3 linked regions of the Homo sapiens genome follow. The protein of the gene in region 3 interacts with the protein of the main gene of each other region in a pairwise test. Each region holds a gene or a part of one and is shown on either strand. Other genes may lie near its edges.

What was found.
Region 1: the proteins of PRKD1 (region 3) and MT2A interact in binary tests that used the Homo sapiens proteins (3 or more experiments, as listed by UniProt).
Region 2: the proteins of PRKD1 (region 3) and MAPK13 interact in binary tests that used the Homo sapiens proteins (3 or more experiments, as listed by UniProt).

What each region holds. Positions count from the first base shown.
Region 1 is NC_000016.10:56,604,403-56,609,997, reverse strand, and holds MT2A (metallothionein-2), read right to left. Parts: upstream 1,415-5,595; 5' UTR 1,343-1,414; coding exon 1,315-1,342; intron 1,007-1,314; coding exon 941-1,006; intron 736-940; coding exon 644-735; 3' UTR 501-643; downstream 1-500. UniProt on the Homo sapiens protein: Metallothioneins have a high content of cysteine residues that bind various heavy metals; these proteins are transcriptionally regulated by both heavy metals and glucocorticoids.
Region 2 is NC_000006.12:36,126,482-36,133,654, reverse strand, and holds the start of MAPK13 (mitogen-activated protein kinase 13), read right to left. Parts: upstream 3,143-7,173; 5' UTR 3,073-3,142; coding exon 2,954-3,072; intron 2,385-2,953; coding exon 2,255-2,384; intron 1,035-2,254; coding exon 976-1,034; intron 1-975. UniProt on the Homo sapiens protein: Serine/threonine kinase which acts as an essential component of the MAP kinase signal transduction pathway.
Region 3 is NC_000014.9:29,595,779-29,602,951, forward strand, and holds part of PRKD1 (serine/threonine-protein kinase D1), read right to left. Parts: intron 4,040-7,173; coding exon 3,878-4,039; intron 3,348-3,877; coding exon 3,249-3,347; intron 1,981-3,248; coding exon 1,713-1,980; intron 1,699-1,712; exon of another isoform or gene 1-1,698.

The sequences.
Region 1 (5,595 bases), on a different chromosome or scaffold from region 3:
TTTTGTGTCTTTTAAACTTTCATTTTCTTATTAACTCCTTATTTTACCAGAGTTTAGGTCTGTGACTAATGGAGAACAAAACAAAACAAAACAAAACTGGTCATTCCCCACAGGGAGTTTGGGAAACCGGATGTCAGATTCCAGCCACTGGGGAGTTGGATTTCACCCTCTGTAGTCACTTTCAAGTCTAAAATCCCACGAAGAACTGAAGTTGGGCAGGGAAATTGAAAGTAAAAGTGAGGAATGGAGAAGTTTCTGTGCCACATTTGACGTGAAACTGAAAGTGATCATGTATGTGTCCCTCCTGCTCCCATATGATCTGGCACAGCGCCATTCAGTTTTACAGAAGCTGAAGCTCAGTGCAGTAGCCTGGCTTGCCAGAATGCACTCTTTCTTAACGGCTCACATTTCCATCCACAGCCCAGGTCTCTGCCCTCCCAGTTCAATCCCTCACCCCAGTCCGTTATTTTTAAGGCATATAAAGGAAACCAGAGACAGAATCAAGTCAAAGCTGTTTTATTATCATTCACATTATTTCATAGAAAAAGGAATATAGCAAACGGTCACGGTCAGGGTTGTACATAAAAAATCCAGGTTTGTGGAAGTCGCGTTCTTTACATCTGGGAGCGGGGCTGTCCCAGCATCAGGCGCAGCAGCTGCACTTGTCCGACGCCCCTTTGCAGATGCAGCCCTGGGCACACTTGGCACAGCCCACAGGGCAGCAGGAGCAGCAGCCTGGGGGCAGACAGGAGGCGGCAGAGATGAGTACTAGCGACACCGGGAATAAGGATTCCTGCTCTCCCTGATAAGGATCACTGAGGAGGCAACAATTTCCGCGCAATGGGGCATCCCCAGACTGCTTTAATTCCCCTGAGGATGGTGGAGAGGGGACAGGCTGGAGGACAGGGAAGGGGTAGAGGAAAGAGAGGATCCCACTTACTTTTCTTGCAGGAGGTGCATTTGCACTCTTTGCATTTGCAGGAGCCGGCGCAGGTGCAGGAGTCACCTGCAAGGAGAAAAGACAGAGGTGAGAACCGTCCCTGGATACCTGAACAAGGGACGGCGTACTAAGAGCCCGGGGCCGAGTTCCTCAGTCCACAACCGATTCCTGGGAACTTGAGCAAGCCATTAACTCAGATCTCCTTAACGGTAAAAAGGGGGCTCCGAATAACCTAGAATGGAGAGAAAGATACCCCAAAACTCTTTGGGAAGGAGCAACTCCTGTCCTGAAATTGAGTGACCAGAGAAAGAAAGAGGGGTCAGAAATTGCTTCTCTAGCGCTACAGTCTACACTGGGCATCCCCAGCCTCTTACCGGCGGCGCAGGAGCAGTTGGGATCCATGGCGAGCTGAAGAGGCGGCTAGAGTCGGGACAGGTTGCACGCGGGTTCGCTGGGACTTGGAGGAGGCGTGGTGGAGTGCAGCGCGGCAAGCAGTGTTTATAGCTAGAAAGAGCCGGGACGAGTGCAAAAGCCCCGCCCCGGCCGGGCGCTGCCTGCACACGCCCCGCGCTGAGTCACTTGCGGCTCCAGGCGAAACACCCGGCCGCGCGCACTGGGCCGGGCGCACCCGGCTCTGCACACGGGCCGCGGGCGGTCAGTTCCCTGAAGGCGGCCCACTTGCGCCTCGGGGACGCCTCGGCGCGGAAGGGGCTGGGTGCAGCGGGAGGACACAGTGTACCGGGTGCTGGGTGCCCACGCCGTGCGCCTCCGCCGTGTGCACAGCTCCCCTCCCTCCTGTCCTGTACTCGAACCTGAGCCGTTAGCGCGCGGGTGAAAGCGGGACTTGGGAATGCTGCTTGCATTCCCAAACCGGTTGGAAGTGCAGACAGGTTACAACTCTGTAGCAGCCAAGGCTTAATAATTGTGCAGCATCACAGTAAACCCGTGGGGTGGTTACTGATGACGTATCCGTTGCATGTTGAGTACTTTTAGCGTGTAACAGGGACTGTAGGAAGTGTGTTGTGTGTGAGATGTCACTTAATTCTGTAGCAACCCATAAGATAAGGACTCTCCAGTATTCTCATTGTAGAGAGGAGAAACTGCAGGTCCAGAGAAGTTAATTTGTCCAGAGTCACACAGCCAGTGAGTGGCAGAGCAGGGTGAATGCGACCAGGCCCCAGCAGATGCTAACGGCCCTCTAACATAGAGACACCAAGGAGGAAGAGTAAGGAGAAGAAGCCACAAGCTTGGTCCTCAGGAAGCTCAGGGGCTGGGGGAACAGAGAGGAGGAGACCCCATCCAGCCTGGGAGGAGGTGGGCCATTGCCTTGGGCCTGAGGGTCAGAAGGTGTTTGCCAGGCAGGGAGTGGGAAGGATTTGTGTTCTAGCCTGGGAGGGAGGAACTAGCGGGAACACTGGAATCGCCCTGAGACATTTGGAAGGGAAAAACCCCACAAGAATATTCTTCCCCTGTGGAGGCTGAGGGGAAGAGCCCAGGTGGCGTCCACATTCCTGTCTGGAGAGGCACATCCTGCCTCCCTGCCTGCGCGTGTCTGGCGCTGTGTAAGGGCCTTAGATCGTCAACCTTGGAAGGCCCGAAGTGTGTCATGCTAGGAGTCAGGAAGTGGTTACTGGAAGCTTCCTGGCAGGCTTAGGGAATGCCGATTGCCACAGTGAAAGTTTAGTGAGGTGGTGGGCGGGGGAGGACAGGCTGTCCTTGCAGCCCTTACTGTAAGTTCCTGTGGAAATGTCTTTCTAGCTCAGCCGAATCGTCACTTCCTCTGGGGACCCTGTCCTGACCCCCATGACCGTGGCTGCCTGTGGAAGGTGCTGGTAAACATCCTGTTCTTTCCCCTCCTGGCGCTTTCCGTGCCTGTGGTATGTATAAACTGCGGGGACTCTTGGATTGGTGTCTCTGCCCCTCCTCACCAACCCCTGACCACTGGAAATGCCAAGGGCAGTCATTGTCTGCCTCTGGAATTGTGTCTTCAGCTTCCAGCACCGGGCCAAGTTTGCAGTAGACGCTTAATAAATATTTGTCAAATGAATTCATGGGGGTAATGGCCTGGACTGCTCTTCCCTTCCCAGCCCCCACCTTGTATGAAGGCCGACTACAAAATGAAAGTAAACACCTCTTGACCACCCTGGAACCTGCGTGCTCACTCTTGTAAAAACACCGCACAGGGCAGGGGGGCGAGCTCTCAGATGGACTAAATTTCAGTGGTCACTCGGCCACTCACTTACTCAGTGACCTTGGGGCAATTACATGCCTGGACTCTTCTGATCCCTGGTTTACTCATCTGTCAAATGACTGGGTTGTACTAGAATTTATATCCAAACATCCTCTGATTTTAGAGCCAAGATCTTTTGAAATCTCATGATGTCTGGCAGCTCTGTGGATCGAGAGCTCTCTGGGCAGTGGACCAATTTTGTTGTTGTTATTTATGTATGCACAGTATTATATACCAAATCCCTGGTTGCTAATAACTCAGATGGTCACCTATGCACTCAAGGCAAACAATCCAACTCTGTGAAGAAACAGAAGGGCTTATTTTGCCCTCAAAAGCATTGGTTCTAGCCCTAAAGCATTGGTTCTAGCCCTGGGTTTGTGCCAGCCATGTTGGCGGTAAAACTTGCTTGTGGGCCTGAGCTGTCTCTTTTGAATCACTTTGACTCTGAGGGGAGAGAAGGATAATGACTCAGGGAAGGTGGAGCAGGCCACAGGCCTAGTCTGTTCATCTCCATGCCCCCAGAAGCTTCACTGTGCTTGGGACAGAGGTGAAGAGGGAGGACCCATGTGCATGTTTGCATCCCTGACTTGGCAGAGGATGAGGGAGTGAAACCAAGCGATATTAGATAAGGAAAAACATCCCCCTGAATATCTGTTGTGAGTCATCAATGTGAAGTGATGACGTGACCCTGGGCTGCATTAAGAGAGGTATGCCATGTAGAATGAGAGAGGTTATGTTTTTCATTCTCCTTTTAGCTGCAGGGGTGGATATATATAGATCTGCTGCCCAGCCATCCACTTGTCCTTCCCCTGTGATGATATCCTTGGTTTTCCTTTGAAGAACTACCCCTCCTTATTACCAGTCCATATGGTTTTGATGGCGTATGTCCCATCTGTGAGCTCCTAGGCCATTCCACCTACCTAGTCACAGTAATTGGCTCTGATTGGGCCACACAGCCACCAACCAAAGAGAATCAGTGATACTTTTGCTGGGAATGCTGGGAGAATGGCAGATAGTCTTTCCATCTGGACTTGTACCTGAGAGAATGTGAAGCTGAGTGAGTTTCTAAAGCTTTTTGGCTCCGTGAGAAGAGCCCAAAAATAAAATAATCACAAAGGAAATGGAGCCTGACAATATCTTGGAACACCTGGATCCAGCCATGCCTGAAGCCATTATGAGCCAATCATTTCCTTTTTTGCTTAAATTATTCCAGATAGAGTCCTAACTGGCATAGTTGGGCAGAACCCCCCTCTGCCCTGAAGGCTGTGTTCATTGTTGGGCTCCCATTGTCCAGAAGACAGCTGATCACAGGGGTCCTAAGGCCCAAAACCCTATCATGTGAGCATCAGCTGAGAGAGGTAGGCAGGTTCAATCTGGAAGTGAACAGTTACCTTCAAATATTTGGCAATGGTTGCCCCAGTTATCTGTAGCTATGCAACCAATTACCCACAATTTAGGAGCTTAAAACAATGACCATCTTATTGTCTTTCCTGGATTCGTGGGTCTGGAGTTGGAGCAGTGCTCACTTGGGCGATTCTTTTGTTTCATTAGCTGAGGTCACTTGGTGCTGTTCGGCTGGTGGATGGGCTGGTCTGGAGAATCTAAGATGGCTTCAGTCACACATCTGGCACTTTGGCAGGGATGGCTGGAGGCTGGGCTCAGCTGGAACTGTTGACCAGAGCTCTACATGTGGCTTCTTCAGCATGGTGGCCTCAGGGCAATTAGAGTCAGGTCATACAGTTGAGAGTTTCAAGAGATGGAAGTGGTAGCTGCAAGTCTCTTAAGCCCTGGACCCTGAAACTAGCACAGGTCGCTTGCACCATATTCTATTGGTCAAGCAGTGACAGAACCTGCCCAGATTCAAGAGGAGGGGAACAAGACCCCCTGTCTTGAAGGGAGGAGTCAACAAATTTCAAGCATGTCTAATCTGCCATAGTAGTCATGGGGAATAATATTGAGCACCTGCTGTAATTCAAGATTTGTGCTAAGAACACTATGAGTTTATCTTAAAGCCTAACATAGCCCTACAAGGCAGGTGCTGTTATCTCCATTTTACAGATGATGCCCTGAAGAGTTATGGGACCTGTTCAGGATAACGCAGCTTGTAAGTGGCAGAGCTAGGATTTGAACTCATACCTACATGTTTATACCATGTTGAAAAGAGGAAATTAGGCTTGCTTTCTGTGGTCCTAAGGGCAGAATCAGGACAATCGCAGTGGGTGGGGTAAGGTTACAGGAATAAAGGTTGTTTTCTAGGTAGCAGGGTCTTTCCCCTCCTCTCCTCTCCTTCCCTCCCCTCCCATCGCCTTTCTTTTCTTTTCTTTTTTTAAAGACAGGGTCTCAGCTCTGTTGCCAGGCTGGAGTGCAGTGGTGTGACCATGGCTCACTGCAGCCTTGACCTCCTGGGCTTAAGAGATCCTCCCAC
Region 2 (7,173 bases), on a different chromosome or scaffold from region 3:
GATTAAACATTGGAATGTTCACAGTTTCTTTAAAAGTAAAGTGTCCAAAATGGAGTTCGTTATCTTTCCCCCAAGATCTGTTCTTCCTCTACCGTGTATTTCAAGCAGGAACCTGCCCATTCCTCCACCTCTGCCACCTCACTCAGCTACTGCACCCCAACAGATGGAACATTGTGTCGGCCCTGCCTCCCAAATGGGGCCTCAAGTCTGCTCTTGGCATCCCATCACCTCTGCTTTAGATCCCTACTTTAGATCACTAACACTGACCTCCAGGCTCTCCCCCTCTGCCTCCGAGCTGCTTCCTACTCCTTTCTTGCTGCTGCCAGTGTGCATCCCCCAAATCCCATCTGAACATATCACCTCCCGGCTCAAAGTCCCCAGGTCTTGAGGCTGCCTGTAGGGTCAGTCCAGATTCAGCTTGACCAAGCCAGCTGCTGGCCTCCACGTGCCACACTGACTTCTCCATCTTGTCCAAATAGTCCAGTCTCATTCAGACACTGCACAGGCAAAGCTATACATTTTGCAGCTAAATATTCTGGTTTTCTGCCATTCTGTCAAACACCCCCATCAGCCAGAGGCAGCCAAGGCTTCTTAATCCTTGCTTCATGCTAGAAAGAGCTCCAAGGTCCAGACTCACATCTGTGTCCCCAGGAAAGGTGAGTTGGTGCTAACCCTGTGAGGACTGGCAGATGTGTCTTCATGGTGTTAAAGCTGGGTAAAAAGCAAAGCAGCTGTGCAGACTGCCCCCTGCCAGGCAAGCACCCCACAAAGTCCTTCCTGCCTCTTCCTGCCTGCCTTTGGCTAAAAGCATCTTTCCAGAGAGAATCACACTTGACAGGCAAAGGCACAGGACTGCCAGGGAAGGAGGCTCTCCCCGCCACACCCGGAATAGAAACCCTAGACCCTCCCCCACCTTGCTCCCCAGCGGCATGTAAGGCCTGCAAATGCCCCAGAACCCAGTGCAGCCCAACTCACAAGTCATAGAAGTTGCGCAGGGAGGAGGCTGGGGTGAAGACATCCAGGAGCCCAATGACCTGGGGAAGAAGTCACCTGTGAGGGCTAGACAGACGCTACCTTCTCCTCCCACCTCCTCCTGGGCCCTGGCCATGCACAGGGCCATCCACCCTTTCCTAATACACCACCTCCAGCAGGAGGCATGTCTCCAACCTTCTTGGAAGCAGTAAAAAGGGCAGAGGCCTAGAGGAATCCCCTGGATTTGGAGGGAGTTTGCAATAAATCATGACAGAGAGTCAGGCTGGGGAGAAGGGAAGGTGGGGAGAATGATGTGTGCTCATTGCTGTCAAGTCTGGTGTCAGGGCAAGCAACACAAACCCACTCTCAACTCACCTAGGCAGCAGGAAAGCATAAGGGGAGGGTGGAAGGGAAAAAGGAGGGAACAGAGAAGGAGCTTTTCAGCCAGCAAACTCCCTGCCCCTGACCTTGGGTCTCCAGCCACATCCATCCTTGCCTGCCACAGGGCTGGTTCAGAGCCAAGGGCAAGATCACCCTGGCTGGAGGCCATAGGGGAGGGGTTTGCTGGAGAAGGATGGGCTTAAAATGTACATAACATTTTGAAATCATTCTTTGAAATGTCTGCCCTCCAATCTAGGTATCCTGCAGCAAAGCCTGGCTGCCAGGCCCTGAGCTGGGCCCCTGGTTTTCCCAGCTGCTTCTATCAGACAAGACAATCTGATGGTCATGTGCTCAGACCGGGAGCCTCGCTGCCGAGATTGAAACCCCAGCTCTGCTACTGACTAACCATCTAATCTGTGAGCCTTGCTGTGCTTTAGTTTCCTGTCTGTGACATGGGGGCAGTAGTACTCATATATCATGAGGACTAGACAAGTTAGTGTATGCAGAGCTCTTAGAACATAGGAAGTGCTCAATATGTGTATATTGCTATTGTTATCAGGGTCACGTGGACACAACGCTAACTAGGATTCTAGTCCCAGCTGGCCACAAGCTCTCAGACATGGAACCAATTACAAAGTTCCCCTGTGCCAATTTCCTCTGTAGGATAACACAGTCTGTACCTCACAAAGTGCATTCTGCCAAAAATACCCTTTGACCTCTTCCTGGAAAGTGGGCAGGGAAGGTCTCGGCACCCCCTCCTTTCAATAGTGAGGCGAGAGGCACCGTCAGGGGAGCAGGGAGGAGACTGTCCCGAGCTCTCCATACCGGGAGGCCCCGCCTGCGCCTGCCCCTGACTCCCCAGGGCAGCCCCCACCCCCTCCCCGGGGCAGCCACCACCTACGTTCTCATGCTGCATGTGCTTCAGCAGCAGCAGCTCCCGGTAGGCGCGCTTGGCGAAGATCTCGGACTGAAAGGGTCGGCTCAGCTTCTTGATGGCCACCTTCTCCCCTGACCGCTTGTCGATGGCCGAGCTGTCGGGCACAGGCCGGTCAGCAGGCGAGGCTCTCCTCCTGGGCCGTATCTCCCAGACCGCCCTGACCCCTCCCACTGGGCAGCTGGGCTGAGAGGGGACTAGGCCCACCACCTAGAATATGGGGGAGCCGCGGGACGCAGGGCAGGGAGTAGGAAGCCAGGCAGGAGCTGAGAGAGGGGCACAGCGCCAGGGGCAGCAACGTCTCATTGCGACGGGATCCACGGCAGGGCGGGAGTCTCACTCTGTCTGCAACTTGGCGAGCCACCTCCCCCTCTTGGGGCCTCGGTGTACTCGTCTGTAACAGTGAGGATCTGCCCGATGAACTCTGGGGTCTTGCAAGTGTACAGTCCTGGAGAACCAGGCCCAGTCCCAACTCAACCCCCAGAGACCTCACTCAGCCACTCGGTGAGAAAAGGGAGATGGCCGCTGGGTGGCCCCGGGGAGGGCGCTGGGCCTTGAGGTCCGCGGTCAAGGTGGCGCTGGCGAGGGGCCAGCCCAGGGCGGGCTGGGCGGAAAGGGGAGAGCCTGGCGCCCGCCCCCCGCCCCCCAGCGGCCCAGGGGTCTCACCACACGGAGCCATAGGCCCCGCTGCCGACGTGCGTCGGGGACACGTAGGTCTTGGGCAGCTCCCAGGCTGTCTTGTTGACGTCCTGCTTGTAGAAGCCCTTTTTCCGGATGAGGCTCATCCCGGGCACCCGATCTCGGCGGCCCCAGCGTGGCGGCTGCGTTCGCGGCCCAACGGGCTCCCAGCGCCCCGACCCCCGCTGCGCCCGCCCCGCGCCGCCCGCTCCTCCCCCGCGCGAGGGCGGGGGCCCCGGGCTGCTACGCTCCCACCTGCCGGCTCGCCCAGGTGCGCCGGGGCCGCCACGCCCGGGCCTGTCCAGCCCTGCGCTCCCGCGCTTCCGCCCGGCCCGACGGAGCCACTGCGGCAGGTGCGGCCCAGGCACGGGGTCGGGGCTGCCCAGCGGGACCCCGGTGCCTCCCAGCCGAGCGCGGGCCAGCGGCGGGGCTGGTGGGTCCAAGCAGGAGCGGGGAGGCAGTGCTTCCCAGTTCCCTCCAGCCCCGGTCTCCGTAGGAAGAGCTCCCTGTGACTGTGAACACACAGGAAAGCAGAACAAAACCCCACAACCTCTTCATTATGGAAAATGTCAAACATGCAGGAAAGAATTGAACAGAGTAAGCCAGCGCTTCTCACACTTCAGTGTGCTCAGGAATCCCCTGGGCATTTTATTTGATTAAAATACAGATCCTGACTCAGTAGGTTTGGGGTGGAGCCGAGATTCTGCATTTCTAGCCAGCTCCCAGGTCTGAGGCTTCTGAACCACATCTGATAGGAGGTTCTAATGAACCCCCGTGACCCCAATTCCCCAGCAACCACAACTCATAATCAATTTTATTTCATCCACATTCCTCTCCCACCATCGTTTTGAAGCAAAACCCAGGCGTCATATCATTTTATTCATAAATATTTTTGTATCTCTAAAACGTAAGGATTTTTAAAAGTACGTATCCACAATACTATATATATATATTTTTTGAGACTCTGTCGGAGTGCAGTTGCCATCTCGGCTCACTGCAACCTCCGCCTCCCGGGTTCAAGCAATTCTCTGCCTCCGCCTCCCGATTAGCTAGGATTGTAGGTGCCTGCCACCAAACCCGGCTAATTTTTGTATTTTTAATAGAGATGGGGTTTCACCATCTTGGCCAGGCTGGTCTTGAACTCCTGACCTCGTGAACCACCCGCCTCGGCCTCCGAAAGTGTTGGGATTACAGGCGTGAGCCACCGCGCCTGGCCCACAATACATTCTTAAACCTAAAATTAATAGCACTAATTCTATAATACCAAATATCCACGCAGGTTCAAATGTGCAGGATTTTTGTTTGTTTTTGACATGGAGTCTCACTCTATTGCCTAGGCTGGAGTGCAGTGGCGCCATCTCAGCTCACTGCAACCTCCGCCTCCCAGGTTCAAGCAATTCTCTTGCCTCAGCCTCCTGAGTAGCTGGGACTACAGGTGCACACCACCACTCCTAGCTAATTTTTGTATTTTTAGTAGAGACGGGGTTTCACCATGTTGGCCAGGCTGGTCTTCAACTCCTGACCTCAGGTGGTCCGCCCACCTCAGCCTCCCAAAGTGTTTGGATTACAGAAGTGAGCCACCGCACCTGGCCCAAATGTGCAGTTTTGAACACAGTTTCTGTGGACTTCCTAAGGCTCTATGAGGACAATGACTAATTGGGGCCCTTGCCACCTGTCTGGTGGCCTGTGCAGCCTGATGGAGATTCTTTGCTCAAACCACAAAGGCCTCTGAGGAGCAAGGTGGGCAGGTGGGGGGAGGAGATGGCTGCAAGGGCTCTGGATGCCCAGCCTGACTTGTCCAACCCCTCTCTTGCCCAGGCATGGGGCTGTGGAAGGGGCGGGGACCACCTGCTTCACTTTGTCAAAAAGAAGGTCTATTGAACAAGGAAAGAAATTTGCTAGGGGCTTACAGCAAGCCGGGGGCCCACACTAGGGAGTCTGCAGCCCCCAAACTCTGTGCCCCAAGCCCTCCCGGGCAGTCCTGCAGCCTCAGGCACAGCCTGGAAGATCATTCTGAGATGAGGGTGGGGTGCCATCATCACACAACAACACCTGCCATTATTTCAGTCAGGCAATCTGTCTTTTTCATTTCTGGCACATGGCAATATAACAGCAAATGTGTGGAGAATGAATGGAGGAGTCAGCCCATTAGATGTAAAAGAGTCATTTAATACACACTTGTGTTTGCCATGTGCCCGTCATTAAGTGTTTTATATAACTCACTTAATCCTGGTAAGAGGCCTGTGAGTCAGTAATATGATTATCCTCATTTTAGAGATGAGGAACCCGAGGTACAGAGAGGCTAAGTAATTTGCCCAAGGTAACACAGCTGGTAAGGGCAGAGCTGGGTGAAAGCAAGTACAGCCTGATTCTAGAGTCCCTGCTCTTGGCTGCGAGGCTATGCGGTGGCCTAGAGTTGACAGAATTGCTCCTCAAAGGAAATGGCCTTGCCCACATCATAAGGACATGTCTACTGATCCAACCATGTCTCCCTCAGTCCATCCTGCCCTGGGGTATCTGATATTTTCCCCAGCCTTTTCCCTCCCCCACCCCCTACTCTGGCCCTGAGACCCCATGAGAGCCTAAGGAACGGGGTCGCTTGCCTGTGAGTGCTGCAGGAGTTTTGGACCTTTGGGATCAGTGGCACCAGTGCAAGGTACCTTGATTCTGAAGTTGGGGTGGGGTCCTGGAAGCCAGATTTTAGGCTAGACGCAGGCAAAAGAGAGTAACTGACCTCAGAGATTCAGGTTTTCTTCTGGTTTGAGGATCCAGTAAGGAAAGGGGCTAGGATGTGGCACCAGGTCAGGATGGCGCCTCTCTGCTGCACGTCTTAAACACCTGAGTGGGGCAGAGGTGAGCCCAGGAAGGTGGGGATACCAAGGACATGCTCATCGCCCAAGTGGGTGCGATCTTCTGAGAGCACGAGTGGCCACTCTGGCTGTAGCTCCGGATGCTCTTGAGCAAGGGTCAGGAAGTGACTCAGGCCTCCGACTCTGCTGACACTGACCCCTACTCTGGGCCTGACTGGCTCTGCATTACTCAGCAGCCAGGCAGTCTGGGAGGGAGCCCTTGGAGGATCCAGTTGGGGAGTCATGAAAGGGAGGGGAGGAGGAGAGGGTCACTCAGGTCATCCTGGATACCCTGCTTCTCCAGCCTGAGGCTCTCTTTTGAGTTCCAAGGGCCCTTTGCTCTTCTCCTCTCCAAACACCAACCCAAGTTGTCTTGTTGGTTTCTGCCCTATGAGCATGGAGCATGGAGGCAGGGATTCAGGAAACTAGCTTTGGAATGAGGCCTGAATTTACATCCTTTCTCTGTCATTACCAGCTGTGTGACCTTGGGCAAAGTCTGGCCCTCTCTCTGAGCTTCAGTGTCCTCCTTGTGAAATGGGGATAATAATAAAGTATGACAAGCATATTGAAAGAGCCTTAGGATTGTATCATTTCAAGTACATATTCCTCACGACAACCCAATGAGGTAGGAACTTTCAATGCCTCCAACCAGAGATCACCAGAAACACACGTGTGGGTGAACAAGCTGAGCTGATGACTCGTTGCAACAAGGGAGAGCATGCACCATGGGGATCATGGGGCGTCCCAGGAAGGGGGCGTTAGAAAGGACTTAGTCTAATGTTTGGAGTTGTGTTAGGTGATTGGGGAGAGGTTAAGGAAGTGAGGCTTTGTTCTGGGTTGATGCTGTCAGGAAGTGGAGCTAACACTATGATTGGGAGTCTTAATACATCTTGCCTAGAAGGAAAGCAGACTAGAGCAAGGCTGAAGCTACAGCTGGTAAACCAGCAGCCTCCACTCAGCTTAGCTCTACAGGGGGATTTGGGTCATTTCTGTGATTTGACAATATTCATGTTTTGTCTGTGTTCAGATATGATTAAGGAGTAGTTTCATTTTTGTCTTAGTCTGCCCTGGTCGCGGATGGCCTTGTTCTATGCTGATGTCTGTGAAATCGTCTATGTTCAGCACAGCAAGACCGAATTGCACCAGGCTGGACAGCTCTGAGCAACCAAGTCCTGGCTGATAGGACCAGGCAGCTCCCAGATGTCAGGGCTGCTTTGGTCTAGTCTATTCCAATATAATTATTCCCCTGGTACAGATGGAGAGACTGAGGCCCGGAGAGGTTATGTAATTTGCCCAAGGTCGCACATAACTAAGAAAGTGGTGAACATGATCTTCATACCTGGCATCTGGCTCCTAAGT
Region 3 (7,173 bases):
GGAAAGTGTTTGATTGGCTTCAGTGGTATTACGGATTTGCATTCTGATAACAGGATCAAGTTATTTTACTGGATTTCTAGATGAGCAATATCAAGCATAATGGTTAGCTGTATTTAGATGTAATGTTTCCTAACAAGGGTACTGGTCACAAGGTTATTTGATAATTCTCTCTGTCTCCTGGGAAAGAAACTTAATTACACTTTACTTTTCATCTTTGTTGAATTATGAAAAATATTTAATTATTCCTTTGGCACACATGATAGCTCTTTTGTAGGCCACAGGTTCCTTTAAGATATATCCATCCACCTATGATTTACAACTAATTAGAGGATGTTAAAGGTTGTTGCTAATGGTAACTTAAAGCTCTGATAATGGATAGCTCTTGTCATTTAATACCAATAGCAGTCTAATAACTTAATTTCTCCTAAGCGGTTTGTACATTCTTTTCTCATTTCTATACCAACATATGCAGTAACAGGCATCACATAAGAGATGTTTACAAATGTACTAGCCTTTTCACATGGTGAACATCTGAACAAACAGAATGAACCTAGAACTAGATATTGCCTGTAAACTAGAAAAGACGTAGGGCTAGTACTGAAAAAAAGTATGTTCAGACTACCTGGGTAAGAATTATGCCCCTGCTACTTACTAGCTTTGTATTTTGACCAGTGGTGTCACTTCTTTTTTTTTGAGATGGAGTCTTACTCTGTTGCCCAGGCTAGAGTGCAGTGGTGCAATCTCAGCTCATTGCAACCTGCACCTCCCTGGTTCAAGCGCTTCTCCTGCCTCAGCCTCCTGAGTAGCAGGGACTACAGGCACGTGCCACCACGCTCAGCTAATTTTTGTATTTTTTAGTAGAGATGGGGTATCACCCTATTGGCCAAGCTGATCTTGAACCTCTGACCTCGTGATCCACACTTGAAATATAGCCATCATAGTAACACCTATCTTATAGAATTTTTATGAGAATTAAATACACTCCAATGTATGTTAAAGGAGGAACTCCTTTCCGAAGTACTGAATGAGTCACTTTCTCTGCCCTGTCAGCCCCTGCAATTTCTTTTAAACAATCTTTTGTCCTTTAAGAGGAAGGAAATATTTATTAAGAATATAACTCTAAACAATGCAACACTGTCAAGGTAATCTATTCTAAAGAAATCATCAGAGATATATATAGGAATGATACATCAGGATGTTCTAATACTAAACATAGAGAAATAACCTAAAAATTCCAGGGGAATGGCCAAGTAAAATATTATACATATTTTAATGCCACACAAAGAAAACCAGTAGACAAAGAACTTGGTATACTAACATATGTTATATGATCATTAAAATATCAATGTCATAACATTCTTGTGTTGATAATAGTTTAAAAGTTTTTAACACAGAACTAGGCACATATAAGTAAGCCCTTACTAATAATTCATTATTACTATTATATTAAGGTATAAGTATTTATAAGTTCTAATGAAATGTACCAAAATACATTCTCTCTGGTTGTTCACTTACTTCTTAATATATATAACCCAATTTCTGTTATGTGTATGTGTCCCACCCAAATTAATTCGTGTCTTTGTGTCTCCACTCTGGTGGGCACTTTACAATGAGCATGTATTAAGTTAATAATTTACAATTAAATTAATTTAAATTAATAACATAAACAAATAAGGATTAGATTATTATCATTTTTGAATGGAAGATATTACCTTCATGAGATATTTCCTTCCAGGGATTTGGTGGATACATGAAAGCTGCATTCTGAATTTGGTCGTGTATGTCTTCATCTTCATTAAATGGGAATGTGCCGCTTAGGCTTACATAGATGATGACCCCAACAGACCACATGTCTAGAGAGCGATTGTAGCCCTTGTTCCTTAGGACCTCAGGAGCCAGGTAAGCGGGGGTACCCACCACTGACCTCCGGAAAGACTTCTCTCCAATGATCCGGGCAAAACCAAAATCACAAAGTTTCACCTGTTGATGAAAGGATTTGCAGAAATACTCCGTTCACAATTGTGTGTCTGTGTGTCTTAGTTCAGATTCACCAGATACAACCATAATATTTTAAATACTTTACCTTTACATTAAATGATATGGATTTCTTAAAGTAATAGCTATTTTCCATTTTAGGTATTTGAAGACAGTGGTTTATGTAGTGATACAAAAGTATGTTTTCATTCATAAAAATATCATCTAAACAGTCTCCCTTGGCAGGGTGCAGTGGCTCATGCCTGTAATTCTAACATTTTGGGAGGCTGAGGCAGGAGGATTGCTTGAGGACAGGAGTTCAAGACCAGTCTAGGCACATAGTGAGACCCCCATCTCTACAAAAAATTAAAAAATTAGCCCGGCGTAGTGGTGTGCAGCTATAGTCCCAGCTATTCGAGAGGCTGAGGTGAGAGGATTGATTGAGTCTGGGAGGCAGAGGTTGCAGTGAGCTGAGACTGCACCATTCCACTCCAGCCTGGGGCAACAGAGTGCTCTGTCTAAAATAAAATAAAATAAAATAAAATAAAATAAAATAAAATAAAATAAAATAAAAATAAATGAAAAAATAAAAACAGTCTCCCTCCTCCAAAAACCGAGAGACAAATATGAAGACAAGTGTACTCAGAAGTGGGTAATATTGTATACAAGGCAGGAAAGCGTTATGCAAATCTGGGAAGTGATGACCTTCACTCAAGCGCTTATTATGAGAAGAAGATGAAGGATAAGTACAGAGATGTGTCATGTCATCCACAATAATCCTCAAAATTAGCTCTGCACTGGCACATATATAGGCAGGACCGGAAGGTGTTAGGGAAGCAAGGCAGGACAGTCACATCAGTCAAGTCACTTCAGACCTATAATTCCCTGCGGAGATAGCTGGTTTCCCACTCTCTAAGTTGAGGAAAGGAAAAAAGTTTTGCCCTTGTCCTTGAGAACAACAGTGAGGTTTAATATCTTGCCCATTAATGAGCAGGTAACATCTCTGGGACTCTCAAGTGTTGTCACTCTCAGGCCACTTCCGGAAAAGCCAAAAGGCAGAATGAGAAGGCACTTTTGTGTATAATTAAGGCATGCTTCACCAAAAGGCCAGAGTAACAAGGCCATAGTCCCAAAGTAACAAATGAATAAAAATGGATAGAAAACACTTGAAACAAATAAAGGTTTTAAGGGAAAAATGGAAGGTGACAAGATGCTACATGGAAGCTAGCAATGCTTCCAACTGGCTTTTTGCTGAGAGAGGCTTTTATACTTGCCTGAGGAAAAGGATCAGCTGAGGCTAGCAACACATTTTCTGGTTTGAGGTCACAGTGAACGATATTTTTAAAATGAAGGTGCCGCAAAGCCACGAGTATCTGTAAAGAAGAATCACCAAAATTTCATTCCAGTTTATTAATTTCAAAATGTCTTCTACCAGTTAAAAGGCCAAGAAAAAAAACTGACAATGGACATTCAAATTTCTTTATGTTAAAGACACTGAAATGAGCTAGATTAACATAGGTTTCTAAAGAAATTTCAATGAAAAAATTACCATATGATGGTATTCATACAGCGGCCAAGACAGATGTAGATAAAAGACCTATATCTAACAGGGACACCCATTCTTAAATATTCTCAAAGAACCAAAACTAAACCAATGTACATTTTAAAATTTCATGAAAAGTTTGAATACATGGACCTGCAAACATGTTACTAATTTGGTACACTGTGGACTCTGATTAATATAGATATAAATCACATAATACAATAAAGCCACTACAACCTTTTCTAGTGTAGTTTAGACTGGAGGTAGGGACTAAACAACAAGGCTAGAAAGCTGTAGTTAAACAGTGATAACATTTGATATTAAATATTGTATTTTTTCCGTCTCTAATTGATTTCTTACCTGAGTAATTAAAAACTTCGTTATGTGCTCTGGCAACCTGCCCTTTTCACTTGACAAGATCATTTCCAGCATGTCTCCATGGAGTTTTTCCATAACAACAAACACTCTTTCAGGCGTCTCAAACATACACTCCAAATTTACAACACCAGGGTGATGAAGGTTCTATTAAAGATAAATAAAGCACTTGAAGAAAATGAGTTTTTTGATACTGTTTGGCAAGCTCGCTGATTATACAAAACTGTTCAAGCTTAGAGCTATAGAGAAACCCACACTTAAGATTTTTAACACCTCTACATTCCACATGTGCTGCCTTATATTTTTGAAATTCTAATGTCTCCAAAAAATACATCTTTACTTTCTATGCGTAGTGAAATTATTTCTATGTGAAAAAAATCCAAGTTCTAGCACAGTGAATTGCTAATTAGGTTTTAATTAGAATACCATATTGAGAAATCTATAATTTCTTAGGATCATCCCCAATATTAAACATATTGTCCTAACTAAGCATACTAGGCTATTTATATACAATTGGTAGAAATCTAATGTAGTAAAGATGAAATTCATACATGTAGTGCATCGGGCCATGCACTGATTAAGTACCTTAGTCAAAACCTTTTAGAAATGCTTTGCTACTGGTACTGGAGGCTGCAGTTTTTGACAGAAACTCTTATACTAAGTGAAGATCATAAAAATAGCAACAAAAAAAAAGTGAGCCTGTGCTTTGTCTACAATACCATCCTACCTGCTTGGTTTTCAAGCACGCAATAAATATAGCTAATCCTTGAGAAACACAAATTTGAACTGTGTGGGTCCACTTACATGTGGATATTTTTCGATAAGTACAGTTGGCCCTTGGTATCTGTGGGTTCTGCATCCACAACCAAGTGAGTATTGAAAATACCGTGTTCACCGGATCCAAAAACCTGAGGATGAGGAGGACCAACTTTTCCTAGAGGGAAGTTCTGCAGAGCCAAATGTGGGATGTAAGTATGCGTGGATTTTGATATGTGGTGCGGTGGTTCTGGAACAAATCCCATGCGGATACCAAGGGACTGCTGTCTTTCCACAATAAAGTAATGACTAGTAATGGTAAGCAGCATTTTGCTTGACACATTAATTGCCACATGTCAAGTAAAATTACGCTTAGCATTAGACGATCTCTTGTAATAATGCTTAAATCTGAACGTTCTTCTGGGTCATCAACAAATGCCTTTGATCATTTGACCTTTACCTTTTTTCTCTGCACAACAACAAATCCTAACATTAAAAAAAAATTATATATTCCACTTATATCCCAATGAGCAAGAGAAGAAAAATCATCATGAACAAAAACCACCTAAACAAAAAAAGCAGGAACTAACTTAAATGTGCTAACAGCTGAAGAGAGAAAAAAATTAAATGCTTCTTTATTTTAGAAAAAAAAATCTCAGTGATAAAATTGTACGTAAAATGAAATTTAAAACCTCAAATGGCTCACTGCTCAGAAACCTCACAGATGGATGCTGGGTGGTGAGCAGCAGAAGGGGTTGTGGGTGAGTCTACATTGTTGTAGTTGTCCTCTCACTACCCATTTGCAAGGAAAGCCTGGCATCAACTGGATATAGAACCAGGAGCTCTGATGATGATAACTCATTTCTTAGAGAGTCCTTTTTCTACTTTGCCTGTTTTGATCTCTGCCTCAGGCATCTGATGGGTCTCTTTGATTCTGATGCCTTGGGTCAAATCATACAGCATAATGGAGTCATGGAATTGCAAGTTTATTATGAATGTGATCTGAGCAGACGCCTACACATCTACCCAATAGCCTTTAACCTCTAAAGGGCTAGAGTCATTGTTCTTCAAACCGTTGCACTGTTAACTGGTCAAGTCTGGCAACTTCGAATAGACCTCACCTCCCACGTTGCTCTCTCCTGGTCAGAGCTGAAGCACATGGAGATAGTTGGGGTTCACAAAGCTCATATTATCAACCCTCTTACTTTACTTTTCCTGATTACTTGCAAATAAGAGCAGATAGCCAGATGGCTTTGAGTATTATGGGAGGGCCAGAGGCTAAGGAGGCGACTAATATGACGACATACACTTGTTTGATAGGCACTATGGAACATGTGATAGTATTGTTCATACTTGAACTTGTGTCCCAGGCTGTCTCATTTCCTTTTCCTTACATGCCTTTCCCTGTTAGAGAAGCCAGACTGACTGCACAGACCACTGGCCTCTGAAGTGTCAAAGGTCTCAGCTGTTCTCTTTTAATCAATAATCACAGCACGAGCTTTAAGGATTACATGAGTTCGGCTAGAGTTCTGATTCTCCTAGGACAAGTCCACTATGATATGTGCAAAGTACACGTTCCTCTTTGAGCATCTTCATTGATTCTTTTATTTTTCTATTTAATATAACTGTAAGCACTTAAGCAGTGTTCTGGGGAGTCTGGCTTCCTTAAATGGCTAAGCTTTGCAGTACGGGTGGGAAGCAGAAGCAATGAATCAGAAAGGAGCAGAGCAACAGAAGTAGACAGGAAGGGTAGGTGTCCTCTGTGTGTAGGCAGACGAAAAACTAGTAGGAACAAGAGATAAGCGTTAAGGGAGAGTGACCTCGGGGGCCCAGGGAGGGCAGGGGTCACGGGAGTAGTATTGGAGCTGCACAGCCTGCTGCTTCTGCTGATCTTAGATTCTGAAAGTTGGAGAAGAGGGGAGAGACGCAATGACTGGGGAGTCCTCCTACCTAAATTATCTGAATGATATGAATCCTTATGTGCCTCTACCTGTATTCCTCTTTTTTTTTTTTTTTTTGTTTTGACGGAGTTTCACTCTTATTGCCCAGGTTGGAGTGCAATGGCAAATCTCGGCTCACCACAACCTCTGCCTCCCAGGTCCAAGCGATTCTCCTGCCTCAGCCTCCCGGGTAGCTGGGATTACAGGCATGCACCACCATGCCTGGCTAATTTTGTATGTTTTGTAGAGATGGGGTTTCTCCATGTTGGTCAGGATGGTGTCTAACTCCTGACTTGAAGTGATCCGCCCACCTTGGCCTCCCAAAGTGCTGGGATTACAGGCATGAGCCACTGCACCTGGCCAGTACATGAGTTCTTAGAGGTACTAAAGTCCTTCACTCAATTTATTCCTTTTTCCTACTCCACAACATGACCTGAGGTGCCCCTGTACAGAGGGTAGAACTTTAATACATGTTTATTTCCAGAATTGGGGTATTCACAGAATGTTCTAAATCAAAAGTAAGTGACAGATTAATGACAGTGTTCATTGTCAACTATTTTGTGCCATGTTCACCGTCAGCTCTGA